2 separate regions of the Homo sapiens genome follow, and region 2 is linked to region 1. The links come from fine-mapping of genetic effects on gene expression. Tissue or cell type: skeletal muscle. Region 1 holds a variant in brackets; the other region holds the start of a gene. All regions are shown on one strand. Distances are between the middles of the regions.

Region 1 (2,684 bases):
TTTTCATTTTATAGTCCAATAACAATATATACCTAATTTGTAAATAAAATATAACCAATGCAATCAACCAGGCTACATTTAAAACTCCATTCAATAAAAACTTGTTTTTATTGAAAATTTATAAAAAATTATGTCATATAAAAATATGTCAAAACATATATCTGTTTCAAGTTAATGAAGATATAGTATTAATACATTACAAATTATCACAGGCATGCCAATTTTCTAATGGCAGAAATATTAACCATGACCCAGTAAAAATTTCTGTAACTATTTTCAGTGTCCAGAATTACTAGCTAGAAACAAGAAAGCCAACCATAATCTTGCTAGGAGGCAGAGCTGTTAGGAGGAAGAAATAAAAGACTGCGATGTGAATTACAAATGTACAAGTACATAAATATTTAATAAAGTAATTATGAGGCGTTTGTATACAGCTCAGTGTTTCCTTGTGAGCTATTACAGTCTATGATCTGCTTCTCCTCGACACTGATGTATCCTTATATTTTATTCTTCGAGCTGTTATAAACAAGCAGGCATTCAAAACTAAGCGAATATATTGTAGTTCCTGAAATACCTCCCCCAGAGGGAGTGATTAGTTTTGGAAATCACAACTTCTAATTGGAGTTTTGAAAGCCAGAACTGCTTGGCTACAATGCAGTGGGCTTTTTCTGCACGGGGGACTTCACAAGAAGTTACTGTGGTAAAATTCCAAGTCATTCCAGCAAAGAACATCAACCCCGTCTATTTTGCCAACACTCAGGTTCATAAAAGTGATTACATTTCTCAACAGCATGCACAGAAAGCACCCGAACAACGAACACCCACCTCTTAAAGACAGAAAGTGGGCTTCGGAAAGCCAAACAGCTGCTTGGAAAAACAAGGAGAACTAGCAGGCTAGGGACGCGGCCAGCCATGTCCACGCCGATACGACCCCGCCGGGAGAGGACCGGGCAGCGCAGCGCGGGGCTGGGGCTGGCGGTTGGGCAGCGGCGCCGCCAGCAGCCGCTACTTCATGGCCCGGGCACGGCGGGCGTCCTGCGGCGGCCACACACCATCCGCCAGCGAGAGCAGCGAGCTGGCCGCGGCGAGGCGTCTCGGTCACGAGCGGCGGGCAAAAAGCCGTGGGCAGGCGGGACTTTTGTCCGGCCCGCAGGCGGAAGCTTTCCTCCCTCCAGCGCCGCTCGCGTGCCCTGGCGCTGGGGCTAGACGCGCGGGTGCCTTAT[G/C]ACTCCGGAATGACAGGGGCTGTGAGGGGTATCACCCAAACCCGCGTCAGTCATCATTCAGAACCTGCAAAAATAGAAGCAGATAATGGATGACTAACACGTTACAGCATTTGTCCTCAGCAAATCCCAGCTGAGGTTCTTTAATACATTAGTAGTTTCACAAGGTTGCGCCCAAGCCTGGGGAAAATGCTGGTCTGTTGAGCTCCCTCCCCCACAGCCAGCCCCCAAGATTTCAGGAACCCCCACGGCGCAGCCCCTGTAGAGCCGGTGTTCTGTCTTTGCTTGCTCTTCCTCCCTTGGACCCACTCCTGTTTTCTTTTCCTACTTCTTCCCCCCTTTATCCCTCACAGCCACCCCAGTCTGAATTTCTCTTTACTTCCTCTATCACTCCTTTCTCTCACCAAAAATGCTCTAAATACCTCTCTGCTGAATGTAAACATCACACAAATGACCGGCTAAGGCGCAAGGAAAAAAACAAAACAAAAAACGAAGAGAGGCAAAGACAAAGCACTGGATACCACAGTAATCAGATAGAAAAAGACTTTTGAGAACAAAGGCATGCTTATATACATGCATCACAGAGCTACAGATCCAAGAGGAATGATATCTCCTACCAAGAGCTCCCAAGGATCATCACAGAATTGCCCAAGTTCTCAGAATTATTTTAAAACAAACAAAAACTCTACAGCTAACATGATACACAAGATGTAAATGCCCATTTAAAAATCCTGCATCTCATAAGCAAAATAATAATTTTGTACTCATAAGGCATGCCTTCCAAAAGATATCCTTTCCTAAGTTTGGAGTTTTACAACATAATTAGAAAGAGTAGGGAGAATCTTAGCTGCCCCCCAAATGAATTTTATCTTCAAAGGTTATGATCAAGAACGTCACATTAATACAAATGAGAGGCCATGAAGAACTAATGTTACAGCTCAACGTTTTATAAGAGGACTCAACTAGGTTAAACTTGAAAATATTCATATTTTGACTGAATATATTTAAAACTATGTTATCAAACCTGCAAATTTTAGTCTGAAGGCATAAATTAAAACTGTATAATTCACAATATAAAAATACTGTACTTCCAAAGAAAGAGATTAAAGTTTTATTTTAGTCAGTAACTATAAACATCGTTCCAAGAATCTCAAATGAATTTGATGGGAAGATGTGTAACAGTAAAAAGAAAAAATAAGGAAAAATCATATCGGAATGTTTCACAGTAATACATCAGCCTCTGGAAATCACAAGATAGTGAAGCTAATCTAAAACAAAACAAAACAAAAACCTAGAACCAAAACAAATAAAAAAGCACTAACCTTAAATGAAGTGAGATTCTTCATGATAAGTGCTTTCTAGATACCATATACCAAATATAAATAAAACCTGACTTAACATCCAACCAAATCAAGGATGCTTGAGGCTCACCAGCAGTCAAGGGTCAGCTAATTTACATAAGCA
Region 2 (2,684 bases), 110 kb after region 1:
ACTTGCTTTATAAAGTAACTAGAATGGCATGAACTATGCTTTTTTGTGCCTGTGATTATAAACTGAAAATTTACAAACAATATGTCACATGTTATTTGAGCTAAATGTCTGATTTTACTAAAATGAAAGTATCCTTCCTGGATTATTAGAATTAGCAGTAAATTTAAGTTTGCACCTAGAAGAGAAAAGCGATTGTAAAGAATGTAAAACATCTGAAGCAAACAAAGTCCAATAAGATCTTCCTTCTACTTGAATTTCTATGACCACAAAGGCACAGGATGTAAGGTCCATAGCTTTGTACACAGGGATTGGTGGGGACGACACGATTTCAACTCTGAACCCCAATGACCAGCTCCAGGAACACATGCCTTTTAGCCCCGCAAAGCTACTGACCAAATCACCCAGAGAGATAATCACATCTCAGCCAAAGGACCTGAACTCAGACGATCAGAACACAGGACCTGCCATCAGGCAGCTGCACGAGACAAGAGACCGTGCTCAAAATCACGTAATACCCTAAGTCATCCCAAGGGAGCCCCACAACTACCCTCAGCGGCAGGCAGAGCTGACGCATATTTTGCAGATGACAACATACAGGTTCCGATGGGGCGGGTCCCAAGGCCACAGAGCTGGGAAGGTGACTGAACCTAGACTTAACTAGTATCCCAAGTGGTGGATACTTCCCATTCTGCCTTGGAGATCGCCCTTCGCCCGCGTATTACATTCGGAGGCTGGCAAAACGGCAGGAAGAGAGCAAAGCTGGGCAAGGACGGGAAAGAAAGAGGGGAAGGAATTTCCACTGCTTCCCGGCACTCGCCCCCACTCCACACCCCAGGTTGCTACTCCGCGGCGGCCTCTACTTCCCCAAACTAGACTGAAGGGCGGGCGGAGAACCGAGGAGGCTTTCTAGGCGTCACGGAGAGTTCTCCAAGTTGGGGGCAGAAAAGGCGAATGAACAAATTGTACCCCCTAGGGAGAGGGCACAAGGAGAAGTGCGGAGGTGAGAAGGACCGGAGGGGAGGACGACCCCTCACAAACTGGCCAGGGACTTAATAATGGTGATGAAGGGTCGTGAGAGAGGTTTGGGAAATGCGAGAATAGCTCAGTCCCCAAAATCCTCCCTGGCCGCATCGCTGGATCCCCGCCCCATCCCCCCACCCCCGACCCGGGCAGCCCGGGAGAAAAAGCAACAACCTCCTGGGGCACCAGGAATTGGTGGCAGCAGGATCCCGAGCCCAGGCCCCCTTCCGCGCCCCCACCCTCACCCTTGCCCTGACCGCCTCGCAGTGGCGGCAGCAGCGGCAACAACACCAACCTGCGCGACCACGGGCTCTGTCCGGGACGGAAGCCGGAGCCTGCGGGCGGCGGAGCGGCGGGCGGAGTTAGTTGGAGGCTCCGGCTCCCTGGGCGGGGACAGGCTGAGCACGCGGAGGCAGCGGCGGTGGCGGGGGCTCCCTCTCCTCGGCGTGCGCCGGGCCCAGCCGGGTCCGCCGCTCGCCCTCGACTCCTGGGGCAGGTCTCAGTCCCTCCCCGGGGGCGGCTCCCGGGCCAGCCCCGCGCTCGCCTCCTCCACGCCGGCGGCCTCTGCTCCGCCCTGCCTCTTTGGGCGCAGGGGGCGCGGAGCTTGGGAAGTGGAGCCCTGGCGAGTCCCCAGCGATTGCGCGCAGCTTCCCGGGGTTTCCCTGCGGGGGTCGCGTGTGCTGGGTGTCTGAACTCACGCGCGGGCCAGAGGTAGCCAAGAGCTGGAACTCTTGCCCAAGTGCCCCGGGGAAGGGAGTGAAGGCCCGGCCTGAAAGTCTCTGACCCTCCCGAGTCTCGTGTCCCTAGAAGCAGCCTTGCGAGGTGGCCACGCCAGCTGCCCTGAGAGAAGCAGAGGAAAATGTCCGACTCTCCCTCCGCCCAGCTTCGCGCCAGAAGAACGTTTCCCGAGAGAAGGAAGGACCCATTGACCCCCAGCCCTTGCTCCAGCCTGGAGACCTGGCTGAGTGCATGGAACTGGAAGGATGGCAGAGTACCGGGGCTGAAAGCCTGGGAAATGTGCTATTTCTATTCACACCACCCCCTTGCCCGGCCCCTGGATTCAGGCCACCTCGCTCAGGTCTGCGCAGTGCTTCCCAGTTCACACCTCCGACCCGAGGAGGGAGGTCGGTATCCCTTTCTTAGCCTGGCTTCCCGCCTCCATCTGCATCCCTTTCTGCTAAACCTTTTTAACCCGCAGAGTGCCCAGCGCGCACACACCGATCACTTCGCCCCTAAACTGCGGGCAGGGAACTCTGGAGCCACCCACATCCCCAGCCTCACCCCAAAGCAAGAGAAAGCAGGGAGCCGCGCGTGGGGTGGTGGGGGCGGGGCTGGAGAGTTCCAGTAGGAAGGTTTTATACCCAAGAGGCTTGATGATGTGCAGTACTGACCCCACACACAAATTGATATGCGTTTAATTGAAGGCAGGTATTTGCCACTGTCTCTCCCTGTCTGCAGGTAACCGCTTGAGTGCGTTCACCTCGCCTCTTCCATCCCCAGCGCCAGCCCAGCCCCCTCTCTTTCTCCCAGAGTCCCATCCTCCTCTCCCTCACCTCTCCCATCCCAGCTCCCTGCAGCGCGGGTCCCGAGCTGCTCCAGATCCCCAGCACCCAGCTCTGGTCTTTCCAGACAACTCCTCCCCTTCAGAATCTGGTGTGGTAGCA

Alleles and levels. Positions count from the first base shown, and alleles are read on the strand shown. Sizes are in standard deviations (SD) of each study's normalised expression.
For the expression in skeletal muscle of the gene that starts at base 1,359 in region 2, allele C in region 1 goes with a lower level than allele G (small effect, 0.13 SD a copy in GTEx).

What was found. PIP is the estimated chance that this variant, and not a neighbour inherited with it, causes the effect.
Region 2: it holds the start of PAM, and the variant in region 1 is fine-mapped to the expression of PAM in skeletal muscle (GTEx, PIP 0.97). The same link has a PIP of 0.9 or more in macrophages, monocytes, monocytes after LPS, monocytes after Pam3CSK4, monocytes after R848 and monocytes after interferon gamma.

What each region holds. Positions count from the first base shown.
Region 1 is chr5:102,864,426-102,867,109 of GRCh38, reverse strand. It overlaps PAM (peptidylglycine alpha-amidating monooxygenase), which reads right to left. Exons shown (of 26, transcript NM_001177306.2): 2 at 826-1,287. The coding sequence starts at 914. Among named protein-coding and RNA genes, the nearest start is that of PAM, 110 kb to the right of the region's middle. RefSeq lists a silencer at 865-994. The variant G/C (reference allele first, on the strand shown) is at 1,224.
Region 2 is chr5:102,753,980-102,756,663 of GRCh38, reverse strand. It overlaps PAM (peptidylglycine alpha-amidating monooxygenase), which reads right to left and starts at 1,359. Exons shown (of 26, transcript NM_001177306.2): 1 at 1,316-1,359. RefSeq lists enhancers at 636-725, 297-797, 1,805-2,330 and a silencer at 1,116-1,665.